Linked DNA regions of Homo sapiens: region 1 is linked to region 2. Evidence: fine-mapped expression QTL. Tissue or cell type: skeletal muscle. Region 2 holds a variant in brackets; the other region holds the start of a gene. All regions are shown on one strand. Distances are between the middles of the regions.

Evidence for each region. PIP is the estimated chance that this variant, and not a neighbour inherited with it, causes the effect.
Region 1: it holds the start of CPMER, and the variant in region 2 is fine-mapped to the expression of CPMER in skeletal muscle (GTEx, PIP 0.99).

Annotation. Positions count from the first base shown.
Region 1 is chr22:27,710,035-27,718,034 of GRCh38, reverse strand. It overlaps CPMER (cytoplasmic mesoderm regulator), which reads left to right and starts at 3,065. Exons shown (of 5, transcript NR_186699.1): 1 at 3,065-3,154. RefSeq lists an enhancer at 1-287.
Region 2 is chr22:27,529,194-27,537,541 of GRCh38, reverse strand. The region is part of intron 1 of LOC105372981 (a long non-coding RNA gene); the gene reads left to right. Among named protein-coding and RNA genes, the nearest start is that of CPMER, 180 kb to the left of the region's middle. The variant C/T (reference allele first, on the strand shown) is at 3,091.

The sequences.
Region 1 (8,000 bases), 180 kb before region 2:
CCTTCAAAACAAAGTTCTCCACCCTGCGTTCTCTAATCCTGCCTTCCTGCCAGCCTCATCTCATGCCGCTCCCTGCTCATGGGACTCCCTGCCCACTCTCTGCCCTGGCTGCCCTGTACTCCAGGGTTTGGCATGTGGTAGTCCCTCTGTTTAGACCACCCTTCCTCCAACTTCCTTTACCTGGCAGAGTGCTGTTGTTGTTGTTGTTTGTTTGTTTGCTTTTTTGAGATGGAGTCTTGCTCTGTCGCCAGGCTGGAGTGCAGTGGCGCGATCTCGGCTCACTGCAACATCTGCCTCCCGGGTTCAAGTGATTCCCCTGCCTCAGCTTTCCAAGTAGCTGGGACTACAGGCGCACGCCACCATGCTTGTTAATTTTTTGTATTTTAGTAGAGATGCGGTTTCACCACGTTGGCCGGGATGGTCTTGATCTCCTCACCTTGTGATCTCCCTGCCTTGGCCTCCCAAAGTGCTGGGATTACAGGCGTGAGCCACCGTGCCCGGCCAGTGCTGTTTGTTTTAAACATCACTTCCAACAAGAACTGGGAGTTGGGATGAGGGTGGCAGGTATGGAGAAGCCACCTGGGTTGCTGGGATTAACTCAGAGGAGGGACAGTGATACCGTTTGGCTCTGTGTCCTCACCCAAATCTCATGTTGATTTGTAATCCCCAGTGTTAGGGGAGGGACCTGGTGGGCGGTGATTGCAACGTGGGGGCGGATTTTCCCCTTGCTGTTCTCGTGATAGTGAGGGAGTTCTCGTGATAGTGAGGGAGTTCTCGTGATAGTGAGGGAGTTCTCGTGAGATCTGGTGTTAAAAAGTGTGTAGCACTTTCCTCTTTGCTCCCTTGCTCTCCTTCTCCCCATGGTAAAGATGTGCTTGCTTCCCCTTCATCTTCTGCCATGAGCGTAAGTTTCCTGAGGCTTTCCAGCCATGCTTCCTGTACAGCCTGTGGAACTGTGAGTCAATTAAACCTATTTTCTTCATAGATTATGCAGTCTCCGATAGTTCTTTATAGCAGTGTGAGAATGGGCTAACATAGACAGCAATCCAGGAAGCCCATAAAATAAGATGACAGGAGCAGAGTCTAGACCAGGTAGACCAGCCAGACAATGGAGGGGATTTTTCCTTGTTGCCTGTTGACTTGGAGAACAGCGTACCTTGGGATTTTCAAACTTTTTTGGAAACTTGAGTTCCTGAGAGGATCCTGGAGGCAATGGCAGGGTTCAAGTCCCCACTGACTCTGTTTTGACCTCCTTTCACAAATCTCTCCCAGAAGATTTTATTAGGAGGATATGTTTTGCAGCTAAAAAAAAAAAGTTTGAAAAACCCTATGTTTTGAAGTCAGGCTGCATATGTTCACAACCCTGCTCAGCCACAAAGCTGTGTGGCTTTGGGTAAATTACTTAACTTCTCTGAATGACTTAAATTCTTAGTTTCCTAATCTGTAAAATGGAAATAATAATTGCACTGACCTTCCAGTTGTTTTGAAGAATGTGGCAGATTGTGTTTTTCAAAGATGGTCATAACCACATCTCTCATTCCTTATGCCCTTGTAGAATCTCACCATTTTCTCATCAAGAAGTTGAGTGGAAGTTCCCTCTCCTTGAACTTGGGTGGGCATTTGAATTGCCTCAATCAGCAGAGTAGCATGGAGGTGATGCTATGACTTCTGAGGTTAGGTCATGACAATGCCATGCACTTGTGCCTGGTTCTCCTAAGTTACTCCTTCCCAGAACCTGGCTGCCATGTTGTGAGGAAGCCCAAGAAGCCCATGGAGAGGAATGGAGACCCACCCCCATGCCCCCAGTGGATAGCTCCTGCTGAGCTCCCAGCTAACAGCTAAAACCAATTTGCCAATCATGTGAGTGAGCTATTTTGGAGGTGGGTTCTCTGCCCCACAGTTAAGTTGTCTCAGCTGATGCCATGTGGAGCTGAGATGAGCTATCCCGCTGCACCCTGCATAAATTACAGATTATGATTGTTGTTGCTTTAAGGCACCATGTTTTGGGGTAATCTGTAATACAGCAGTAGATTACTGGAACAAGGAATAGGTAAGATAATGCACATGAAGTGCTTAGCACCGGACTAGGTGCATTAGAAGCACTTTTTACACAGGAGAAATTGAGCACAGAGACAGCGATGGTTTGGCCCAAGGTCACACAGCTACTGGACATGTTTTCCCGCTACTGCTTCTGCTTCTTCTCTGCATGGAGGTAGTGAGGATGTGACTGTTGAGTTCTGAGCTGATCCCAGGGCTGGGGGACTAGCTCCTCTCCCCGAAGACTGGCACCCATTGCTGAGAGCAGGGTTTATCAACCAGATCTGGGTATTTCCAGACAAGCTTGCTGCAAGTCACCTCCTCCCTGCCTCTTCCCTCCCAGGCCCTCAATGGCTGCCCCAGGAAGGTGGGGAAAAGTGGTTCGACTGGGCATTGGCAAGTGAAGGGCCCTGGAGGCGGGGAGGGGGCATCTCCTGGCACCAGCCCCTGCTTCCTGTCTGCCTGCAGCTCCTCTTCCCAAGCATGAGTGGCTTTGAGGGAGGATCTGGGTGACTCTTTCCTCTAGGCTTTAATAATACTGTTAATTAAGCAGCCAAGAGAAGAACACGGCTGGCGCCAGCGAGGGGACAATGGTCTGAAAAGGGAACAGAGAGACGCATCAACAGCTTCCCATGCAGGGCTTTCAAAAGAGCAGCTGTGGGGAGCAGGCGGGTGGGGGACAGAAGGGACACCGCCAGAGCCGATCGCAGTGTGGCTGGGCAGGGAGGCGCTGGGATGAGCCCATGCCAGCTGTCCAGCTGTGCTTCTCTCTGGCACCCCCTGCCTTCCCAGCTGGACGAGGGCTTCTCTGGAGCTTCTGGACAGGCTGGATGAAACAGGCAGCCAGAGGGCACCAGCTGGTCCACCCAGACCCCCCATGACACCTTATTTTGCCTCCATTTCCTCATCTACAAAATAGAAGGGTTGAACTAGTTTGCATTTCTTCTTATGTGCTGATCTCAATAGAAGGTGACTACTTGGAACGTTGACTTGAGAATTTAGAAGCCGAATCAATGCTCCACGGAGAAGCATGCTGGGATTGATTTGTGATGTCTGCCACGAATATAAGATTGGCCATTTGGGGCATGAATGCTATTCATGGATTGGATCTCCTAAGGTACATTCATTCAACCAATAAGTAGTTAAAAACCACCTACTAAGTGTAGGTCTTCTCACTCTCATCTAGTTTCCTCATTTATACAATGAGTACCTAGGGAGAAGTAGAGTCATCCCTCAGCATCCAGGGGGAATTTGTGCCAGGATACCACATGGGTATGAAAATCCACAGATGCTCAAGTCCTTTATATACAAAGGGAGTATTATCTGCATATAACCTACGCATATCCTCCCACATACTTTAAATCATTTCTAAACTAGTTATAATACCAATACAATGTAAATGCTATGTGAAGAGTTGTTATACTGTATTGTTTAGGGAATAATGACAAGGAAAAAAGTCATGTTCAGTACAGGCACAACCATCCATTTTATTTTTTCCAAATATTTTCACTCTGGTTTGTTGAGTCCATGGATGTGGAACCCACATATATGGAGGGCCAAGTGTACTTTCTTTTTCTCTGGGCTGTGATCTTTGGAGACAGAACAAATAGGAAGAAATCAGGGCCAAGAGAGAAGAGATATCAGGAGTGCTCAGAAGAAAGTGGTGGTATTTGCATATCGCCTTAAATCGGGTTGGCAAACCACAACCCCCGGGCTAATAAAGTTTGATTGGAATACGGCCACACCCACGTGTTTATGTATGGTCTGTGGTGCAGAGTTGAGTGGTAGGAGGGACAGAGAACTTATGGCTCACAAAGCCTAAAGTAGTTACTGTCTGGCTCTTTACAGGGAACCTTTGCCGACCCTGCTGTATACAATTCAAGGCATTTTCCCAGTCATCCTATCACTTGCTTTTCATGCCAACTCTCTGAGTTTAGCAGGGCAGACATTATGAAGTCCCATTTTCCGAAGAGGAAACTGCACCCCAGCCCCAGAAGGCCAGGCCTTGAACTTGAGCTTCCTATTTCTTTCCCTGGGCCCCCTTCTCCACGCTGCCTTCCATCTGACTCCAAAAGCTGCCAAGCTTTTTGATTTTGCTTCTGAAATCTCTGGCATCAGTCTCAGCCCCCAGTATCACTCACCTGATTGATGCTAACATCCTCCGGGATTTCTCCTTCTAAGCTATCTGATAGTGGCTAGAGAGGTTTTTCTTAAGCCCAAATCTAAATCAGGCCACTCCCTTGCTCAAAGCCCTCCCATAGCTCCCCCATGCTCCACTCCAAAGCCTGAGCTCTTTAGCATGATCTGTAAGGTCCCTGCTGCGCTTGGAGCCTCCCCTCTTCCCTGTGTATTCTGGAGGCATGTTGCTCCTTTGCTCCTCCCAGGAATTTCTCTCCACCCCTTCACACAGGATTTCTCGTTGCTAAGACCTCATTCTTTAAGGCTCAACTCAGTTCATGAGCCTTCTCTGCTCCCTCCCCATGTTCAGCCAGGTTAGTGCCTCCCCTGCCCATACTGACCTGGCCATTTGGGGCGTGAAGGCTATCCATGGATCGGATCTCTGAAGGTCCACTCATTCAACCAATAAGCAGTTAAAAACCACCTACTAAGTGTAGGTCTTCTCCCTCTGATCTAGCTTCCTCATTTATTATTATTCACTAGTGCACAGGCCTAGCATCCAGTAGGCATTCACTAAATGCTCTCACAGCCTTGCTGATGGGAACTTGCCCTCAGCTCTGAAACCCCAGGCCCCACTGTTAGCCTAATGCAGAGAGGTGCCCAGCCCCCGAAGACCCCCGAGGGCTCTCTACTCCTTCCCTCTCTATGGCTGCCCCAGGGCCTGAATGGCTTGAAGCTGTGAATTTGCTAGGCAAGGACCACGACAGCTCTTGGCCTCATTATTTTTGGCATCTGTCTTATTCCTTAAGCATCTTCTGTGGGGAAGAAGAACAGCTTGATAGGAAAATGCTCTGACAGACATTCTACCATTAACACATTTTTCCCATGCCCTGAACGTGCCCCACAATCCTTCAGGAAGCATCTATAATGGACAGAAAAAGGGATGGCAGTAAGGCTACAATGTTTCCAGGGGCAGGGGAATGAAAGAAGGCAGGCACTAACACCACCAAGTACCTATTGTGTGCCATATCCTATTCTGCTAATTATAGCTACCATTTGTATAGCCTTTACTTACGTGCCAGCCACACACACACACACACACACACACACACACACACACACACACACACACACACAAAGCTCAGGACTGGCTTCAGGCATGGCTGGATCTAGGTGCTCCAACAATGTCTGCAGGGCAGGACCTGGTCCCATTTTCCTCTCACAGGCAAGCTCTTTTTACAGAATCCTGAGTAATTCCAGAACTATATTCTCTTGTCAGAACTAAGACAAGAAAAACCTAAAAAAGCTTTTTATTAATAGTTTCAGCACAAGTTCCAGGACTCATTCTCACTGATTGTACTTGGGTCATGTGCATGTTCCTGAGCCAATCACAGGATCAGGAATGGAGCATTTTGATTGGCCAAGCCCAGGTCATGTGCCCTTCCAAGAGCTGGGGACTGGGATAAGGCTCTCTTAAACATCACAGAGAGAGGCCAAGGCAGGAGGATCACTTGAGGTCACGAGTTCCAGACCAGCCTGGCCAACATGGTGAAACCTCGTCTCTACTAAAAAATACAAAAATAAGCCAGGCATGGTGGCACATGCTTGTAATCCCAGGTATTTGGGAGGCTGAGGCAGGAGAATTACTTGAACTCTCTAGGCAGAGGTTGCAGTGAGCTGAGATTGCGCCACTGCACTCCAGCCTTGGCAACAGAACAAAACTCCATCTCAACAAACAAACAAACAAACAAACACAAACAAACAAAAAAAATCGAAAAACAACTAACATCACAGTCCAAGGGAGGTGGGAGAATGACGGATGATCCCTGAGGGAGAATCAGGGTGCTGGACAGGCAGAAACAATTGTCTTTCACAGGGGCCTGCAAATCTCACTTTTATGTTACTAATGAGGACACAGAGTTACAAAAAGGCAAATGGGCTGCCCAGACTCACAAGGCTGATATGTGGCAGAACCTTGATTGGAGCTCAGGACTCCAGGACTGACTTATAAAAGCCCTGGGGAGGCCAGGCACGGTGGCTCCTGCCTGTAATCCCAGCACTTTGGAGGGCTGAAGTGGGAGGGTTGCTTGAAGCTAAGAGTTTGAGACCAGCCTGGGCAACATAGTGAGACCCCATCTCTAAAAAACACCCCAAAAGCCCTAGGGAGCAATAAACTGTCCTTCTTTTCTCTCCCCCATATTTATTGAGCACTAATTATGTGCCAGGTACTATACTTTGGAGATTACAGTGGTGAATACGACAGATGTGATCCCTGCATTGATGGAGCTTAAACTTAAAGAAGTCAGTTTCTGGCCTCCCTTGCTCATTGCTCTACCCTCCACCTGGACAGCCCTTTCCACCCCCACCAGTCTCAGTCCCCAGTGACCTGTGTTCCAATCTTCCCTGTCTCTCTAGGTCTAGTTAGGGTCGTGCCATCCCCTCCAAGCCTGCCTTGCTGGTTGCAGCCAGACCTTCCCTTCCTTGCCTGAGTCCTGCAGCCCCTCTCTCCCATTAGGTTGCCCCTGCTTGCCCCTGAGATGTGCAGAAAAGATGGGGAGGCTGCCCCATCCTCTGAGGTTCTTGTTGGGGGAGGGAGAGGCAGGGAAGAAAGAGGATGGGCCAGACTGGGTTCTAGCAGCTGTCACCGCAGGGGCACACCCACATACACATCACACCCACAAACACACATGCACACATGCATACTCACTCATTTGCTCATTCGCAAGCATTTATTGTGTGCCTACTGTGTGCCGGTTACAATGCCAGTATTAGGGACACAGTGGTGAACAAGAGCAGGTCCTGGCCCTACCCAGTCCCCACTCCCCATTCCCCAACAGGGAGCTCACAGAGTAAGCACACAGTGCTTCAAGAGGGAGACATATAGAGTGATGAGAGTGTATACCAGGAAGGGCTTCCTGGAGGAAGTGGCAGCTGAGATATGAACTAGGTAAAGAGCAGAAGGGACAAGCATTCTAGGCTGGGAGGGAACAGCATGTGTGAAGGGTCTTCGGGGAGAGGAAGCATGGGCTCTGACAGGTTGAATGGAGGTCAGTGTGGCAGCAGCCTGAGAGAGACAGGGTGAGTCAGGACTCAGCTGTGGGGAGGAGGGCGATGGGGCCATGGGAGCCATGGAGGGTTTTAAAGAAGGGAAAGGCAGACGCAGACTTGGGTTTAGAAAGAGACTTCTGGTTGCTGTGCAGAGAAAGGCCTGGGAGTGTGGGTGCAGTTAGAGGGGGCAGCTGTGCCCTCCAGATGGACATGACAGGGGCCAGCAGTAGGGAGACTAGGTCAGGTTAGCAGGTGGCATGATGGGGAGGAGAAGCTGAGAGATTTGAGAGAAATTTCGATGGTAAAGAGGAAGGAGTGCAGATGCCACTGGTATCCGGTGTGGGCAGTGGGATGATACTCTGTACAACCCCTGCCTGGGGCCCCAGATACGGAGAAGGTGCAAGGCGGGGGAAGGTGCCCCTTACACTCTTAATACCTCCTTCAGACCTCCCTCACACCCCCACTCACAACCTCACAGACAACTCAACATAGTCACATGCACAGTCTCACTCACAAATTCATCTTCTTACATTCCCTTACTCACCAGTCCACATAGTCCCTCTATCAGTCAGTGCAGGATGGGTTATGCCATAGTAGCAAACATCCCCCAACACAGCACTGTTCAGCAGTAGAGGTTTCACTCACACCTATGCTATCTTACTCCCCCTGCTCTACCCACTCCCACTTCCCGTCATTCACACCCAGTCCCTGTATCAGTCAGCCTGGGCTGGATTTGGCTGTAGTAACAAGCAGCCCCAAACCTTAGCACCACACAGCAGTAGGGGCTTGTTTCCTGC
Region 2 (8,348 bases):
GATGTACAGAGGTCAGCTTCCAGCCGGCTTGTCTAGCTTAGAGAAAAGTGATCGCCACCCCAAACACGCTTCTTAATGAAGCACAGCCTGTGCTTACAAGCCATTCCCTTCCTGCCTTTTCCCTCTAGGAGGAAATTCTAAATCTTGAACACAAACGGCCAAAGAATTATATTTACATATATTTATATTTTATATTCACACATATCTAGGGAGCTGGGAGCAAGGGAAAAAAAAGACTAAGGTTTATTCTGGACAGCAGTGATGTTTCATAAGAGCAAATGAAGAGAGGTGAATAGTGGTCGAGCTTGCCTTGGTGTTTGAGCTTTAAACACAGAACCAGGTCTGTCCCTCTGAGGAGTAGAATTAAATTGTTCAAAGCAATAAATGGGAAAAGGTCTGCAAGTGTAATATGGATGGGAAGAGTGGGATAGGAAGGTGAACTTTGCATGGTTGTTCATGAGGGTTGGCCCAGCTGGGTCTAGGCATGAGGTCTAAGGGGCTGACTATCCATCTAAGTCAAATGAGGAAGCTTGCCTTGCTCTAGCGTGTTGCAGAAGAGAAAAGCAACAAGATCTGTACCCATGTGGGTAAATCAGAGAAAGATAGGAAGCAGGGAAGCTTGGCCATTCCATGCAGGAGAAGGCCCTGCCACTGGCAAACCTGGCCCAGTCACTGCCCCAAATCTAAGCAACTTGGGGTGACTCCTTCTCAGTGGGAGAGATAAGCTGGGGAAGGGGTTGTTGAGACAGGGCAAGCACACACCTGGAGCAATGTTAAACATGCACCTGTAATCCCAGCACTTTGGGAGGCTGAGGTGGGAGGATCACTTGAGCTCAGGACTTCGAGACCAGCTTGGGCCACATGGCAAAACCCTGTCTCTACAAAAAAAACCCAAAACAAAACAAAAAAATTAGCTGGGCATGGTGATGTGTGCCTGTAGTCCCAGCTACTCGGGAGGCTGAGGGAGGACGACGGCTGGGAATTTAAGGTTGCAGTGAGCCATGATTGTGCCACTGCACTGCAGCCTGGGCAACAGAGTAAGACCCTGTCAAAAAATAATAATAATAGAGTTCACATTCCCTTTCCCAGCAGAAAACATCAGGGACATGGGTGGGTAGTGCCCCTACAGGGCCGCACAGTTGGGCAAAGCTGTCCATTCAGGCCTTACCCCAAGTCCCTGTAGAAAAAGGGAGGCCCAGATACCTGAAGGTGCTGGGAGGTCATTTTTCTAGGAAGGCCCTATAATAAGACAGCCGTCTTCCTTCCCAGTAGGCTCCACACAGAGGACCCTGAGGCCTAGAAGTGACTTGGCCAAGGTCACTTGGCTGCTAGGCAGCAAAGCCAGCACTTGACCCAGGACTTTCTGACTCCAAAGACCAAACCCTTTTTAAAACTTATTTTTATGGAGATATTTTATACAAATAAAATGAAATACATAAGGTAGGCATAAGGGACAAAGCAAAACCAAACAAACAATAGCCTCTCCACCACCGAGCTTGAGAAATGCAATGCTACCCATGCGGCTAAGCCCTGTGGACTCCACCACACTTGCTACCTACCTGTCTCTATTGCCAAGGCTAACCCCTCTTCCGGGTTCAGGGTTGGCTCTTTGTTAGTGACTTATTACGTGTATAAGATTCCTAGATACTATAGTGTAGGGTTTGCCTGTTTTTGAACTCAGTATAAATGGAATCCCACTGTGTATTTTCTTCTTTATCTTTCCTCATTCTGTTTTGAGATTCCTTTATGTTGTCGCATGCACCGTAATTAATTAATTAATTAATCAGTTTTAATTCTTTTTTTTGAAATCATTAAAGACTCACACAAAGTTGAAAAAATAATACAGAGAGAACCTGTGAACCCTTCACCCAGCTTCCCCCAATGATAATACCTTTCAAGGCCATAGTAAAAATGATCAAAACAGGAAATTGACACAATAGTACAATCTCATTGAGGTTACTACTGTGGAGACTCAGCTTGGGATGATTTAGCTTGGATGAGACAAAACACACCCCTGGATCTGTGGGACCCAGAGCCCATGCACCTAACCACTGGACAATACTATTAACTCAGGGGTGGACCATATTCAGATGTCATCAGTTTTTTGTTTTTTTTTTTTTTTTTTTTTTTTTACATGCATCTTTTATTTCTTCCCCCGACCCCAGGTGTACAGTTCTTGAAAATGTGTGTAGGTTTGAATAACCATCCCAACAGTCAAGATACAGAGCTATTCCACCAGGAAAAGATTCCCTGGTATCGTTCCATAGTGATGTGGTTAATTCATTTTTAGGGCTGTGTGGGAGTCCTTCGCTTAGCTGTGCCACAGTTGATTCATGCGATCTCCTGGCCATGGCACTAAGGTGTTTTCTCGCCCAAAACTCCCTTGAACACACTGCTATGAGCATCCATGTGTATATCTTGAGCACATCAGCCAGAATTCTTTTTGGGCGTCTTCTTAGGGGTGAAATTGCTGAGTCAGAGGGTATGTGCATCTTCCACATGAGGCTACATTGCCAAATTCTTTTCCAAGTGGTTGTCATAATTCACACTCTCACCAGCAGCATACTACACTGTTTCCCAAGAGGCCCCGACCGGGCCACAAAACCAGTATCCGTACAGCACTGTTTACAAAACCCATCAACACTCCTTACGCTGGTTAACCCTCACAGGCCCTGGTGACATAGGCATGAGTTATCACCTCGTGTCTGTTCAGAAAAAGAAGCCAGAGCTGAAGTGACCCACTCAGGTTCACACAGTGTGCAAAGTCCAGGTTGCAGACTCCAGACCTTGTTATCTTTCCCGTAAAAACCCAAGGCTAGGCATGGTGGCTCATACCTGTAATCCCAGAGCTTTTGGGGACAGAGGTGGGGCTATCCCTTGAGCCCAAGAGTTCTGTAATTCTGGGATCATCAAGATTTTTGAGCCACCAGGATTCTGCCTTGAGACCAGCCTGGACAACATGGTGAGATGCCCCTCTACACAAAATTAAAATTTTATCTCTACACAAAGTTTAAAAAAATTAGCTGGGTATGGTGGTGCATGCCTATAGTCCCAGCTACTATGGAAGCTGGGGAGGGAGGATCACTTGAG[C/T]GCAGGAGTTTGAGGCTGCAGTGAACTATGTTTGAGCTGCTCTGCTCCAGCCTAGGCGACAGATTTTAAATAAATAAAACCCAGTGCTTGTGTAATTTTTACCAAGGGCCAGGCACTGTTCTAAAGGATTCCCTTCTCATGTATTAACTCAGTTTAATCCTCATAGTGACTCTACGATGTAGGTATTTATTATTATACCCATTTTACTTACAGAGAAGTAGAGGTACGGATGGAGAGGTTAAGTAACTTGCTCAAGGTCATTCAACCAGGAACTGCCAGTGCTGGACTTTAAGACAACCCTCTTGGTATCTTCTCTGTGAAACCCTCTACTTGAGGGGACACCCCCAACCTCCTGGGTGCATGACTTAGGTCTCACACTGCCATCCCTCTCAGGCACCCAGGGGCAAGTTACAATGCTAAGAGCATGGCTTGGCTGGGTAGGGAGAGGCACCAGTCTTCTCTAGGTCTGGGCTGGGCACCGGGTGGGCACCTGGAGCTCGGAGCCCAGCCTGCTGCCCCAGGGAACCCGCAGGGATGTGGGGAGCATGCGGAAGTCTCAATCCGATTATGCTATTAGTTTGGGCATTCTGGGGTTGTGCTCTGTGTCTACTTGACAAAACACAGCCCCGGAGCGGAGCCCTGATCGCTTTAACCAGGTGGAATTGAGCTCACACTTCAAGCAGCTTCTCCGTTATTACTGGCTTAGTGCTGCTGAAGAACCAACAGCAATAAATACGCCACCAATTTGCTCTCTGAATGTTCTTATTTGCAGCACGCCATGCAGAAAAAATATTAACAAAAAACAAACTCCTCACTCATAACAGGCTGAGGAGAGCCTCTTTAGAGTGGCGATGTTTGCCTGGATCTCTTATCCCATGTTTTCTTTCTGTCTAAAGAAGCTATAATTTGAGCTAAGCAGCTGCTGGTAATACTCTTCTGGGACATTGAGCTAAGAGAGGCGATGGTGTGGGAGAAGGTTGGCCCAAAAGGAGGACAATGGAGGGAGAATCCCACTCCAGGGACTGGAAACTGAAGGAATGGGGGAGGCCCGTCAGCTGAATGGGAAGATCCAGAGAGTTGCTCTCAGGGGTGATGAGGAACCCTGGGGTCTTGGGGTCCTGAATACTAGGAAAGCCGCTACTGCTTTCTGGGACTTGATTTCCACATCTGTGAAATGGGCTGATTTGATGACCTCTTCCGGTTCCAGCACTCTGTATTTGCCAAAGTATTTTTTATTCTTTCTCATGTTCTGGGTTCTGACTTAGCAAGAATTTGTGGGAGTGGACACTGTTCTGTAATTCTGGGATCGTCAAGATCCTTGAGACACCAGAATTCTGTTCTATTGTTCTTTGATTTGAAGACTCCAGGGGACTATGAATATGCAATTGTAATAAGAATAATGGCAGCTAACATCACTACAATGTAGCCAGGGCCAGCTTCACGGGGGGCCCTGTGCTTGGTTTAATGCTCTGCTGCCATCAACTTGAAATTCATCATTATTATTATTTTTTCAAATCCCCTATTCCGAGAAGCAATCATCATTGTTTTTTAACAAGGGGCCCCGCATTTCATTTTTTTTTGTGGGTCCCACAAATTATACAGCCAGTCCTGAGTGTACCAGTTAGAAGATTTTGGAGGCAAAAGGACTTGGTTCAAATCCTGGCTCGAGCCTTTCCAGCTGTGAGACTCCGGGCAAGTCACAGCCACTCCCTGAGCCTCAGTGGCCTCATCTGTAAAATGGAGCTAAGATCTTGGCTGGGCGCAGTGGCTCACACCTGTAATCCCAGCATTTTGGGAGGCTGAGGTGGGCGGATCACGAGGTCAGGAGATCGAGACCATCCTGGCTAGGCTAACACAGTGAAACCCCATCTCTACTAAAAATACAAAAAAATTAGCTGGGCATGGTGGCGGGTGCCTGTAGTCCCAGCTACTCGAGAGGCTGGGGCAGGAGAATGGTGTGAACCTGGGAGGCGGAGCTTTCAGTGAGCTGAGATCGCGCCAGTGCACTCCAGCCTGGGTGACAAAGCGAGACTCCATCTCAAAACCAAAACAAAACAAAACAAAAAATCTCACTGAGGTTACTACTGTGGAGACTCAGCCTGGGATGATGTAGTTTGGATGAGCCAGGACACACCCCCAGATCTGCGGGACCCAGAGTCCATGCACATAACCACTGGACTGCACTGCCTTTCCACTGATTTAATTTTTCACTATGGAAAACCTCAAACGTGTGAAAGCAAAAAGAACAGTAGTATAAAGAACCCCCAGGTACCTATCAACTGCCTCAACATTCATCAACACACTCCCAGCTGTGTTCATCCATGTCTCTACCACCCAAACTAGATTATCTAGAAACAAATTGGTGATTAGGACAAATGTGGTGGTTATCACAGTCTACGTTCCAGTGCCTGCAGAGGTCTGGAATTTCATGACTCATAGACTTAAGGAGTTGATGCCTGGAACATTCTGACATTCAGAGAATCCACATGGAACAGTGACAGCCAGAGAGGTCTTTTTCTCAGTCCAAATCAGGTTCCCAGGCTAAGCACTGTGTCAGGCTGAGCAGAGCAAGGCTGCCTTGGTTAGTTGAGATGACCTCAAGCAGGAATGTTCTCCTCTTGTGAATTTGTTTAAGATAATTACATTAGGTCCCATTTCCAAGCCACTTGTAAGAAGAGTGTATTTTCATGTTCAACCACGTCTGAGCTCCCAGGGACGGTTTTAAGAATTCCCCTTTTCCCTCCACTCCCAGCTCCAAATGGCTCCAAATGGTTTTCTTTCTTCTCTCTCTCTCTCTCTTTTTTTTTTTTTTTTTTTTTTTTTTTTTTTTTGAGACAGGGTCTTGTTCTGTCACCTAGGCTGGAGTGTAGTGGTGCCATCGTAACTCACTGCAATCTTGAACTCCTGAGCTCAAGTGATCTTCCTGCCCCAGCCTCCTAAGTAGCTGGGACTACAGGTGCCGCCACCATGCCTGGCTAATTTTTAATTTTTTTTTTTAAATAGAAATGGGGTCCTGCTATGTTGCTCAGGCTGGTCTTGAACTCCTGGCCTCAAATGATCCTTCTTGTCTGGCCTCCCAAAGTGTTGGGATTATAGGTGTAAGCCACCATGCTCGGCCATTTTGTCTTGGTAAAATCTCCCTTGACTGAAACTATGGAAGAGGAACTGGTTTGTGAATGAGTCAAATTGGGAACTATGGCTATGGCTGTCTCTGGCTGTGTTAGTTATCTACTGCTGTGTAACATCTACTAATTTTGTGGCTTAAAACAATTTACATTTATGATCTCGTAGTTTCTGTGGATCAGGAGTCTGAGCATGGTGTGGGTGGGTCTTCTGCTTAGGGTCTCACAAGACTGCAGCCAAGGTGTCAGCTGTGGCTGTGTTCTCATCTGAGGCTCAACTGGAGAGAGATCTGCTTCCATGATCATGCAGATGATTGACAGGAGTTAGGTCCTTGTGGGTGTAGGACTGAAGACTTCAGCTTTTTCCTGCCTGTTGGTCAGAGGCCACCTTCAGCTCCTAGAAACCCCCACATTTCCTTGCCACATGGGCCTCCCAACATAGGCAGCCTACACCTTGGCAGCTTGCTGCTTTCAAAGCTGTCAGGAAGCAAGAGATTCCAGGAAGATGGGTGCTATAATCTTAAGTATGTAATCACACACATCTTGTCAATTTGCTCTATTTTGTGGATTAGAAGCAGGTCACAGGCTCTTCCCACATGCCAGGAAAAGGGACTGGCTACATAAGGGCATAAACATTAGGAGAAGAGTCTGTCTGCTGCAATGGCTCACTTATTCATTCAGCTAGTATTATTTTTTATTTTTCTTTCATTTTTTGTAGAGATAGGGTCTTGCTCTGTGGCCCAGGCTGGAGTCCAGTGGTGCAATCACAGCTTGCTAGAGCCTTGACCTCCTGGGCTCAAGTGATCCTCCTGCTTCAGCCTCTGGAGTAGCTGAGATTACAGGTATGAACCACTGCCCCCATCTCAACTAGTACTATTGATAGTAAGCAAGATAGATGTGGTCCTGCCCTCAGGAAACTTCTATGGAGCAATGCGTGGATCCTGTGTGTGGGGTTGGGACAGTCCCAACTCTGATCTTGCTGTGAGACTTTTGGCTTGACATTAGCTCTCTGGGCCTCCCTTGACCTATTTGACCAGTGGAATGAATACCACAGAGCTATCCCTGGCTCAATGGTGATGTGAGGGTCCAGTCATCATGGACCCTCCATCATTTATCAAGTGGGTATGGAATACCAACTACTAAGCCAGTGCTTTACCAGTGCTGTCTCAACCCTTACCACAGCCCATGTGCAGGGACTTTAACCCTGCTGTTGGCTGTGACCCTCATTCTGCTACCCACAAGAAAATACGTGCAAATGGCCTCTGGAAGGAGTCGGAGGATGCCCTACTATGTGTAAAGAGGAAGTGGGGCAGAGAAGGAGTTAAGAAGACAGGTGGTTGTGATGGAGACCTGCTGTGAGACCTCTTTGAGGCCTTGGCCCTGAAAAGAAACGTCTCCAAGCATCAGTCTGACAGACATCTCCAGAACAAAGAGGATACTGGTTCCTACCTCATGGAGTAATATGATGGTTAACTATGTTTATGAATAGAAATTCTCAGAACCATGAGAACATGGTAACTACTCAAAGAATGGTGGCTTTTGTCATGAAACACCTACTGTGCACTGGCTCCGTGCTGGGATGTTTTATACTGAGCCTGCCGGCCTTCAAGGTGTGAGGCTCTGAGATGAAAAAATGTGGCCTTGGGGTTGAGAGCAGTGATAAAACCTGGCTGTGAGCTCTCCTGGGATGACTTTTTGGTAAAGACAGAGCCTTCTGGTGGCAGCCAGGGAATGTTCTAGGTACCTGACCCTGAACAAACGTCTTGCCTGTGAGGCCCCTCCTCCTGGCACTCAGGCTAAACCTAATTTATGAATGAACCCATCCCCAGTACCTAGTCAAGTGTGGCCACAAAAGGCCCCACAGGAATTGCTGCTCGGGGCAGAGGACTCTGGTCTTCTATGAGCTTATCAGGCTCCTTCTAGGTTGAGCCATCCATGGCTTCCCAGTGCCCTTGAGAAAAGTGCAGAATCCTGCCAGTGACTTGCAAGGGCCCATGTGAACCGGCCCCTCTGGTCTCTGAGGCCTCATCCTCTAGCTTGGTCTCTCTGGTTTTCTCTGCTTCAGCTGTTCTAGACATCCTTCCCAGAGCTGCAATCGCCTGACTCAGGGTCCTTGTGTGCGTTTCTCTCCTTCCT